Linked DNA regions of Homo sapiens. The protein of the gene in region 1 interacts with the protein of each later gene in a pairwise test. Each region holds a gene or a part of one and is shown on either strand. Other genes may lie near its edges.

Region 1 (3,541 bases):
TATTCACAATAGCAAAGACTTGGAACCAACCCAAATGTCCAACAATGATAGACTGGATTAAGAAAATGTGGCACTTATACACCATGGAATACTATGCAGCCATAAAAAATGATGAGTTCATGTCCTTTGTAGGGACATGGATGAAATTGGAAATCATCATTCTCAGTAAACTATGGCAAGAACAAAAAACCAAACACCGCATATTCTCACTCATAGGTGGGAATTGAACAATGAGATCACATGGACACAGGAAGGGGAATATCCACTCTGGGGACTGTGGTAGGGTTGGGGGAGGGGGTAGGGATAGCATTGGGAGATATACCTAATGCTAGATGACGAGTTAGTGGGTGCAGCGCACCAGCATGTCACATGTATACATATGTAACTAACCTGCACAATGTGCGCATGTACCCTAAAACTTAAAGTATAATAAAAAAATAAAAAAAAAGAAAAGCAGGAAAAAAAAATAACATATATCCACATAAGAAATACATGAATATATAGTTAATTTATTTGTATTATTTATTTATTTATTTATTTATTGAGTTAGGGCTTCATCACCCAGGGTGGAGTACAGTAGCGCAATCACAGCTCAGTGCAGCCTCGACCTCCTGGCTCTAGCAATCTTCCCACCTCAGCCTCCTAAGTAGCTGAGACTACAGACACACACCACCGTGCCTGGCTAATTCTTGTGTTTTTTTGTAGAGATGGAGTTTTGAACATTGCCCAGGTTTATGCAGTTAATTTAAATGTTATATAAATCTCCCTCTCTCTCTCTCTTTTTTTTTTTTTTTTTTTTTTTTCCCAGAGACAAGATTTCACTCTGTTACCCAGGCTGGAGTGCAGTGGTGTAATCATAGCTCAATGCAGCCTTGAAATCCTGGGCTTAAGCTATCCTCCCACCTCAGCTTCCCTAATAACTGGGACTACAAGTATGTGGCAACATGCCTAGCTAAGTTTTTTTTATTTTTATTTTTTATTTTTGTAGAGATGAGGTCTAACTATGTTTCCAGGCTGGACTTAAACTCTGGACCTCAAGCGATCTTCCTGCCTCAGCCTCCCAAATGTTCAGATTACAAGCATGAGCCATCATGCCCAGGCTTTTTTTTTTTTTTAAATTTCTTAACATTGTCAGTTAGCAACCTCTAAATGTACAGGGCATGATTACCTAAATAACACGTATCAGAAAATAAGCATAAAATTATTTAATCATAAAAACATTTGTATGTATCTAAATATTTCTCTTATGTTTCTAAAAAAAATTGAGTTTAAAAAAGAACTTTTAAACAGTATCTAATGTGGGAACTGTACAAAAAATAAGTTATTGATGAACTCCTATAACCAAACTCTTAGCTAGGAACATAGCAAAATAAACAGCTAAGCAACTTTGAGACTGCTACTTAAAAATTTTAAAACATGGAACAAAGCATTTTTTGAGTCCAGACGTTTTAAAAAAAGTAGTGTTTGCTTATATAATTTAGCCCTTTAACTGGATAAATATACCGAAATTTCAAAATTTCTAGGCATATGTATCTTTAATTGATTGCAAATTAGTTGACATTCAAAAGTTCAACTTAATAGCATTAAGTGTAGTCATCTAACTCCATGGAGCTTAACCATTTTGAAGAATATAATATTCTTGGATCATCAAGTCCATAAATACCTACATCAAGTATATGTTAGTACCAAGCTAATGGGAGTTCATAATTTATAGTCTGGGACTTGATAAGCCAGGATTTGGGGTGGCATGATTCACATGAGTGTCTTGAGACATATCCAAGCCCAGGGCAATAAACAGAAAATTATGAAGACAAGCTCAGTTAGAGTGCACAATAAAACCCAAGTTGATAGGTCAGAAACTGGGCATGCAGATAAAAATTACAGTCTAAGAAAGGCAGTATCAGCAGCCAAAGCCCAGAAACTCTAGAAAACAAGCCAAAAGGCACAAGAATTAATGAACAGCACCAAGAAGACTTTGATCATTGGGCCCACGGTCTTTCCCAGCCAGAATACTTATTGATTACCACCTTCCTGATTCAGAATCAGTTTGCAGGTTAGTATATGCCCTGGACTGATAGGGGGATAAAAAGCAAAGATCTAGACAACACAGACCTGTTACCTCATTGCTCCCTAAGAATGGTGTATGTGGTAGGAGGGAAAAAAGCTCTTTTCAAGATGAATTGTGATGTTGGCAAACTTCCAAACTTATATGCTAGCACCAAGGCATGGAAAATATTTTCAATAATACCCAAATTTAAGAATATACCTTTGACAATCAAATACATGTGCATATGTGTGTATTAGCCTTTCAGCATCTATGTAGTTACAATTTTCACAATTATAGCTTCATCGAAATAAAGGAAAGAGAGGGAAATGTCAATGCCAGAATTCTAAACTCCAGAGTAACATCAATTAATGATGTAGTAAATGAAGATAGTCCAGACTTTGTTTTAACAAAAACTTATCCCCCAAACACTCATGATACAACACACACACACACACAAAGAAAACCTGATCCAATTATCTTAGAAAACATATAAAATTGAAACATCATTTAAGGATATCTAGTATCAGAGCAGCTTCACAAACGAGTCCCATTGCTCTTGCCACTCTGATCTGAGTTCAATTCAATGTGGTTGAAAGCAGGATTATCAGTTCCACCATCTTCCACTGGATGTGATTTATAGCTCAAAACATGCTTCTTCTAAAAGAAAATGTTAACATGGTGATTAGGGGGAGAAAAAGAAGCTCTTCATTCATGTAATTCTAAATAATTGTTTCTACTATTTTTATTTCTCTGCATCAGCTTTCTAATCTACTGAGGGAGAGAAATATATAACAGGTATACTTCCTCAGAGGATACCGAGATATTCAACAGATACAGGTTATCAGAAGATAGATACAAAATAGCCCATCAGACAATAGATATACAACAGATTTATAATATCAGAGGATAGACAGATATATAGAGAGATATAACAGATATAAGTTATCAGAGGATAGACAGATATAGAGAGATATACAACAGATACAGGTTATCAGAGGATAGACAGATATAGAGAGAGATACAATAGATATAGATTATCAGAGGATAGACAGATATAGAGAGATATACAACAGGTATAGCTCATCAGAGAATAGAGGGATATACAACAGATATAGGTTATCAGAGGATAGAGAGAGATAGATATACAACAGGTGTAGCTCATCAGAGAATAGAGGGATATACAACAGATATAGGTTATCAGAGGATAGAGAGATATACAGCAGATAAAGATCATCAAAGGAAAGAGGATATGCAACAGATATAGCTCATCAGAGGATACACAGATAAGCAATAGGTATAGCGTATCAGAGGATATGGAGCTATAAAACAGATATAGATCATCATAGGATAGAGAGCTATCCAACATATATAGATCATCAGATTATATAGGGTCTATACCTTCCTTGTCCATCACTTTTCAAGAAAGAGGTTGAGAACTAATTAGTGTTCTATCCAGGTAATAAAGCCCAGTTTCCTAACTCAAGGTAAATGAAA
Region 2 (8,000 bases), on another chromosome or scaffold:
AAAACAGAAAGTTAAGAAGAAATAATAAACTAGCTCAACAATAAATGATGCATAAACTCTGGGGCAGTGAATGGCTTATTTATAAATAAGCGTCACTTAAAACGACGAAGGAAGTCCAGATGACAGCATAAACAGCAGAAACTCGGGAACTCCTTCACCCTAAATCTGGCGCCTGATTGAAGACCAAGCTTTGCCCTCTGTTTTGGTGATTCGAAGGCTCACACCAGTCTTTTGTGTGCCTGTGAGGTCCTGGGCAAGCTGTGGAGCTGTAAATATTTGCCCTTCGCCCAGAGCTGGCCAGCTGCTGAGACTGCAGCTGACAGACAGGCCAGGGGCCAGGAAGGGGGGCCAGGTCGGAAAACTTGCAGGCCTGGTGTGCACGTAAGGAAAGGGGGCTGGGAGAGGGCAGAGAGAGGCAAAGCAGACACAGGCCCTTGGGGGAGCCTCGGGCAAATATTTTCCCCTTTCTGCCACACCATCTGGAGCAGGCAACCAGAGCGGTGGCAGCAGGCCCAGGCCCCTCCCCAGGAAGGCAGAAGTACCCAGCTGTTGAAAATGTGGCTTCTGCAATCAGGGAAACCAGTGGTTCTCAACCTGGGCGACTTTGCCCCTCCAGAGGACACTTGACAATATTTGGATTGTCACGACTTGGGAGGGAGGCCAAGAATGCTGCTAAACATCCTACAATGCACAGCACAGTACCTCCCCTCCCAACTAAGAGTTATGGGGCCCAAAATGCCAATATGCCCCAAAACTGAGAACTCTGAGGTAGAATCTGAGTCCGGCTCTGCTCCCTGAGTCACTACTTAATTTTGGACAAGTTATATAACTTCTCTGAGTCTGTTCCCTCATCTCAAAGGACAACATAGGTAATGCATGTAAAGTACTTCCTATTGTTGGTGGCACTTAATAAACACTCAATAAATGGTCCTTGTGGTTGCACTGAGGAGCAACATGATAGTTTATAGAACGTGGGCTGGAAAGATGGGCACGCAAAGGTTCAACATGCAGCTTTGCACCCAAAAGCTGTGACCCAGGCATGAAACTGCCCCTTAATGAGCCTCAGTTTTTTCATCTACTAAGTGGGAAGGGTCACACCAACCTCACTTGATTAAAAAGGAAATGACTGGGAAGAATGCAGCACCCAGCCTGGAGCAAAGTAAACCCTCGCTCAAGGGGACCGCTCAGGTGGAGATGTTAAAAATAATTCTAGGTAACACTTGTTGAGCATTTATTTACTCTCTGCCAGGCACAGTACGAGGCCCTTCTACTAAACTCTCTCCCTGAAGCCTGACAAAAACCTTTCGCACTGAGGGAAACTGAGGGATCTGGGAATTAAGCCAGAAGCTCACCCAGCTGGTCAGCAAAAAGCCCAGATTTGAAAACAGTTTTAACTCCAGAGGACTCACACTTAATTATTACTTTATACTTGTTGGGGGCAGAGTGCTCCTTTAATTCTTTCTGAAATCCCTGGATGAATACCTCAGGGGTGCCTGGCTGTGTTTTTACTCTGTATACCACGTCTCTAGGGACCATAGTTTCCAACTTTAGAGAGGTTAAGCAGCTTGCTCAAGGTCAGCCAGCTAGTTGGCTGCAAAGCCCACGCTTGCATCCAGCTTTTACCCCAGAGGCCTCTCTTCTGATATCCTTCTTAACTTAATCTACACTGGCTGTGGGTTCCCTTTATTTTTTTTTCTGGAATCCTAGAGGATGCACGGATACAATTCACCCAATGTGTCCATCTCTCCTCTCCTAAGTGTCAGTCTATAGGTTTCTGACCTCTAGAGGGTAAGCAACTTGCCCGAGATCCCCTAGCTGGTCTGAGCAGCAAAGCCTTTGAACGCAGTTTTGACTCTGGAGCTGCATTCTTCATTCTTATCCTACACTTGCTTGTGAATTCTTTTTCGTCCTTCCAGAATCCCTGAAGCTGTACAGCTATACTTTACCGGTTACGTCTAGACTATAAAGGACCACAGTGTTCCACCTCAGGCAGGTTCAGCGACCTGCAAGTAGTGATACAGCTGGTAAGCAGTGGAAGAAGAGGGAGGAAGCAAGGATGTTCCCGGGAAGCTCGGGGCATCCCTGTACCCAAAGGGATGGGGCGGGGCCCTGGGTCCCCAGGGATCCTGGCTGGAGGTCGGGGCGGGCAGCAGGCGCCTACCTTGCCGCCGGGCGGCGCGGCCACGCAGCGGCTGAGCGAGTCGAGGCGCGCGCTGTATTCGGTGAATTTCTTCTGGTAGCGCAGCGCGGTCATCTGCAGCTCAAGCTGCGCCGCGGCCAGCTGGGCCACCAGCGACTTCTCGCGCTTCCCAGCGCGCAGCGCCTCCTTCTTGAGCGCCTTGTGCAGCGCGCCCAGGCGGGCCTGGAGCGCGCCGTTGTGCGCCCGCAGCGCTCGCGCGCAGCAGTGGCCGCCCGCGCGCTGCTCGCCGTGCGTCAAGGGTAGCCCGCAGCCCTCCTGGCAGCGGCCCACTGGCCGCGCGTCGCAGGCGTCGCGCATGTGCGCCTCCACGTCGCGCCGCAGCAGCACCTGGCCGCAACCCGCGTGGCGACAGCGCGCGGGCGCGAAGTCGCAGCGCTCGAGGTGCTCCGGCAGCTGCTGCAGCTTGACCACCCGGCCGCAGCCGCGCGTCGCGTACGCGCACTTGATGTCCAGCTTGAGGATAAGGCGCTTGAGCGGCAGGACGTGGTTGAGCTCTTTGGCCGACAGGCGACCGCGGCAGCGCGCCGGGCAGCTGCCCTCCTGCACCACCCAGGGCAGCACGCAGCCGGCGCAGAAGACGTGGCCGCACGGCGTGGTCAGCGGGTCCTCCAGGACCTTGTGGCACAGCGCGCACTTCAGGTCCGGGTCCACGTCGCCGTCGAAGCGGTCCAGCTCGAAGCCCATGGTGGCGGCCAGGCCCCGGGGTCGCCGCCGGGCGGCCGGGCGCCCCCTCCCTCCCCACGAGGCGGCCCAGACAGGCCGGCTACGCCGCCCGCGCGCTCGCTGGCTCTCCCCGGACTGAGCCTAATTGATCCAGACTTCCTCGGAAAATGCCCGAGGAACAGGACTCCTCCGGCCGTATTTGCGCGAGCGCGAGCGCACATACATCGTGCCTTGGATGCCTCCCGCCAGCCCCCCGAAAAAGGGAGGAGGCTGGAAGGCAGAAGCGCGTGGGAGGACACTGAGGCTCGCCAGAAGGGACGGGCCAGCCCAGGACGCCAGCCTGAATCTTCTCGGGAAACTCCTTTCTGTTCTCTTACAGTCTACGCTATAGGAGACAAAACGCCAGCCGAGAAAAGCTCGCTGAGTTTGGAGCTGAGGCTACTGCTTTCTCCCAAGGGTTCTCTTCGAGCCCCTTCCCGAACGGATCAAAACTTTTTTACTCCCTTCTCCCTCCCCCTTCCTCTAGTGGCTGATTGCAGAGGACTAAAAATATCTTGGGGCCCGCTATCTCAGCACTTACGGTCTTTATTTATTTATTTCATTCCAGGGAAAGTTACAGAGCCTGCGGGAAGCTCCGGCTGCAACTTCAGTTCTGACCAGAGGTTCTGTGAACCTTCAGGATTTAGCAGGTTTCCAGGACCGGTGGGTGAATCTACCCGGGGAAGTTTTGGTGGACAAGAGCTGCTCGCCAGCTGTCGGAGTGGGAGAGGCCAGCGTGCTGGCTCCATCCACTTCACCTAACACCTCTGAAGTGTCTGCCCTGCAGTGTGGCAAGCGTGGTGCTGAGCGCTTCTAAATCCGTCGCTTTAAAGATCATTAGTACAATGTTGTGAGAGGGTTAGCTCCATTTGAAAATTATTTTCCCGTGATTACAAAAGAAGCGATGCTGACTGCAGAAGTTAGAACTGGGAGAAGACTCATCACCCCCATGATCATGTCAACAACTGCCCTCCTTCAGTTTTGGTTTGTTTTGTGTGTACACTCTGTCATCTTTCCATTGAGGAAACTCAGGCTAGAAGAAGGATAAAAACAAAACAGAAAACAAAACAAAACAAAAGTGCCCTGTAGGGTCCTGTAGGTCAGTGTTTCTCACATTTTAATGTGGTTGCGGTTCTGATACAGTGGGTCTGGGGCGGGTTCTGAGAATCTCCATACTGAAAGCACTTCCAAGTGATGCCAATGCTGCTAGTCCATGCTGGTCCTTGGATTCCCACTTGATTGGAAAACCCTGGCGATCCATAGATCTGGACATTCATTCCCTGCAGTACAGCAAACCTGGCTGGGTAGGATTCAGCAACAGTCCTGAGCAATGGAGGAATATTTTTGGAATTCCAAACTGGGTGTAAAGTTCATAGCATCATCCATTGATTTTATTTTATTTTATTTTTACCTCCCAAGGCTATAGACATTCCTAAGAAACACGCAGTCAGCTTTTGGTGAGAGTGGAATCAAGCTATGGAATTCTCATTTGGAATCTGCTTCCAGTTTCTGAACAGTGAAGCGGGAGAGTTCTGAACAGTAAAGCAGGAGCTCTGTATTCAGCGAGACTCTGGGGCCTGGAAAGTGGGATTACAGCATCCATTTTGTCTAATTGCTTTCCTTCTTTCTTTTATGTGGCTGCTAAAGCCCCATGACCTTCACTATTTAACTGCTTCATCAGAGTGAAAGAATTGCCTTGATGTTCATAAGGATTACTTGTTTCACACTGACCTTTAAAAAGTTGTCACTCACTAGATTTTTCAGTGCATGGTTGAGGTCACTGGACAGTGTTCTTTAATCAGTTTTGGTGGCATTTGTTGCCTATTTGAGGTGGAGACTTTCTTTTAATTGCTTTAATCAATTAATGCATTGCTTTGATAGGATTCTGCATGGGGTGGAATATTATTGGCCTTTGTTCAGATAAGCTTGTGCCAGGGAATCCTCCATCAGTATATTCATTAAACTGCTCATGGGCTCTCAGATAATGGGTAGGAAACAAATTCTTTCACCAAAGGTGTGTGGGCTTGTCAGTTTCACAGAATGAGCTAGTGTCAACAGGGTGATAATCTTCAAACCAAACTGGTTTTGAGAAACAGAGAAGTTCTGTCCTACACCATAAATGTAAATTAGTGCTTACTTGGGGTGTACACTTTTTTGGAGATGTTCTACCACCCCTCGGGTGGTCTCCCAGATGGCAGATTGAGAGGTTGTTGCTGAAATGCTACAGCTGAGGCCACAGAGAAGCCATAGCCTACTGTGGATTGGCCTCTTTAGGCAAAAGGAAAGTCTGTGCCACTCCTCAATGGTTAATTTTAGTATCAAAATTCTTGGAGGTTAGAAAAAAAATCCTACAATGTCAGAGCTGGCAAGACTATTATTTCAGTCACCAAACTTAACAGGAGAAACGAGAGCCAAAAATATTAGGAAAAAGGAGTTGAGGGCAGAGTTACTCAACCTTGGTACTACTGACATTTTCATTCAAATAATTATTTGTTGTGGTGTGTGTGGGGGTGGGGGGTTGGTTATCGTCTGCATTGCAGGATATTTAGGAGCATCTCTGGCCACTATCCAATAGACATAGTAACAACCCCTTGTTGTGACAACCAGGTTGAGAACCACAGTTTTAAGGAAGCTTTCTGCTCATTACTGAAGTCAGGCAATGCTGTCAGCCCACATTTTCTGCTGGCTGTGGAACCACCTGGTGAATGCTGCACAGTGAGAGAGGGATGTTATTATAAATCGAAAACTCAAGGCACCATACCAATAAACATGAATAAAAACTGTAGGAAGATGAATGTTTGGTGTGGCAGGCCTCCTGAGAAAAGTAGCTGATTTTTCTGACATGGATTAGATACTTACTCAACCGTCCCAGAAACATCTGAGTGTTTATATATGGATGAATTCCTTGTGGACAGCTGGATTGGTCACTTTGCAAATTATTTTTGCGACTTCCACTACCTCTTGCTCTTACCCCTTCCTTTTATCATCTGATTCTGCACTTTCTAACCAAAATGTGGCCCCAAGCCTAATAAAAATACTATTTCTATATTCACCACGATCCCATTCTGATTTTAAACTCTGTTTTTAGTGTTCTTTCCATCAGCATGTTTAATCAGAAGTTGATAATAATATCTACCACTTTTTTGGGAACTGTTACTAGGTATCAGGCACTGTGCTCAGCACTTGACCTTCATTGTCTCATTAATCCTCACTGCACATAGAGAGGTAGATATGTTGTCCACCCTGTTTTACAGATGGAGAGACTGAGGTTTATAGAGGTTACATAAGATATCTAAGTAGGCGTAGGTACCTTATAAGGTTACATAAGGTATGCCTCCAGTCAGGGATGTCAACAGGAGAATTTCAGAACCCTCACTCTTAATCACCATAAGCATTATGCGTCTCCTCCATAAGCTCCAGCTCAGGAGGCACTCCCTTACAAATGATATGGATAAGAACTCCACCCCTCCATGTTTGCTGGTTATCAATCCTCAGCTGCTCGTAGGGTCTGGATAATTTGTGGCTTCAGTACTAGAAAAAACAAACAAAAAGAAAGTCAAGGGTTTTTACATTTGTTTTTTAAATTTTCTTCCCCAGGCGTACATATTTGTATTCTACTAGCTAAAATAGCACTATACAATTAGATAAGGATCTGCTTTTACCAAATGAAAGTACCACCAGAGCGTAATAAGGTACAGCAGTCATCCACAAAAACAAGTGTGAAACATTTCGGTCAGACTGCTTGCCTGTTAACATAGCCAATGTTAGCCATCCTGGAGCCTGACACATTCGTTTGGCCATGGGTTGAAAGGTAGGGAGAAGAGAAGGTAGTTCTCTATTCTGGAGACTTTTGAAGACTTTGGTAAGTCAGGATGAGTTATCACAGTAGGGACACTAGGCAGAAGAACAAGAATTGCGAAAATACTTCTTACAAATTTGAGCAAATTCTGGTCTGCAAAAGTCTGGCTCTCCTTTCCCAACTCTCCAGATGGGATTAGTTTCCACAGCCCCAAGCACATACCCTTGTATAACAATGATCACACTTGAAATGTCTTAATTTATCTAATAATTATTTAGTAGCTATTATATGCAAAGAAGAGGCTGTTCTTGCACTGGGGCTACAAAGGCTACCAAAAATAATAAGCAGTGTCCCTCCCCTCTTAAGCCTTCATTTCACGATAAGGAACAGCAGATATCAATAAATGAATAATAAATGAGATGATTATGGAATATGATAAGTTCCCTAATACAGTGCTGCTCAAAGTGTGGTCTGGGGACCAGAAACATGGGCATAACCTGGAAGCATGTTGAAAGTGCAGAATCTCAGGCCGCACCTTGGACCTACTGAATCAGAATCTGCCTTTTAGCAAGATCACCAAGTGATTTGTGTGCACTTAAAGTTTGAGAATCACTGCTGTCAACACCATAAAAGCAGCTTACATGCTGGAGAAAAATCAAAGGGGCCCATTTGAAATAGGGCTGTCTGGGGAGGGGAAGTGTGAGTTGTCGCTTGAAGGGTGAGACTGAGCCAGCAATAGCTGGGAGAAGAACAATCCAGGCAGAACAAGAGAAAGTGCTGAGGTTCGAAGCAAGCACATGGTCTATTTGAATTAGACAGAGTGTGCCTAGAACTTGGAGCAGAGTAAGCCGAGCGAAGAAGAATCAAACAAGGGTAAAAAGTAGGCGAGAACCAAATGGACACGGGCCTGCAGGACCTGTGGAGGAAAGAGATTGAATTGATTCTAGTGCTGATTGGCACTGAAGTATTTTGGGCAGCAGAGGAGCACAGCTTGATCAATGTCTAGTGTCCATGCCACATATTACACTCTATTATAGAGTAGGGCAATCGTGTTCACGTTCTGTCCCCCATGTTTAACACTTAGTAGAAACGTAATAAATATTGAACAAATAACTGTTCCCTCTTCCTGCTCCATGTAAGTTCCTGCTGCTCAGCTCTTAAGCGTGGGTTGGTACTACCAGCATGAGGTATATGTATCACAGTATGAGTTAAATAGGCCTCTGTGTCCTAGTTGGAGTACCTATCAACATTTAGAACATTGTTCCCATAACAAAATCAATTCAGAATTATGAACAGCCA

The links.
Region 2: the proteins of SLC5A8 (region 1) and PDZRN3 interact in a two-hybrid assay, tested with the Homo sapiens proteins (one study listed by BioGRID).

The regions. Positions count from the first base shown.
Region 1 is NC_000012.12:101,154,698-101,158,238, forward strand, and holds the end of SLC5A8 (sodium-coupled monocarboxylate transporter 1), read right to left. Parts: intron 2,705-3,541; coding exon 2,582-2,704; 3' UTR 796-2,581; downstream 1-795. UniProt on the Homo sapiens protein: Acts as an electrogenic sodium (Na(+)) and chloride (Cl-)-dependent sodium-coupled solute transporter, including transport of monocarboxylates (short-chain fatty acids including L-lactate, D-lactate, pyruvate, acetate, propionate, valerate and butyrate), mocarboxylate drugs (nicotinate, benzoate, salicylate and 5-aminosalicylate) and ketone bodies (beta-D-hydroxybutyrate, acetoacetate and alpha-ketoisocaproate), with a Na(+):substrate stoichiometry of between 4:1 and 2:1.
Region 2 is NC_000003.12:73,621,942-73,629,941, forward strand, and holds the start of PDZRN3 (E3 ubiquitin-protein ligase PDZRN3), read right to left. Parts: upstream 3,001-8,000; 5' UTR 2,885-3,000; coding exon 2,162-2,884; intron 2,025-2,161; exon of another isoform or gene 1,627-2,024; intron 1-1,626. UniProt on the Homo sapiens protein: E3 ubiquitin-protein ligase. Plays an important role in regulating the surface level of MUSK on myotubes. Mediates the ubiquitination of MUSK, promoting its endocytosis and lysosomal degradation. Might contribute to terminal myogenic differentiation.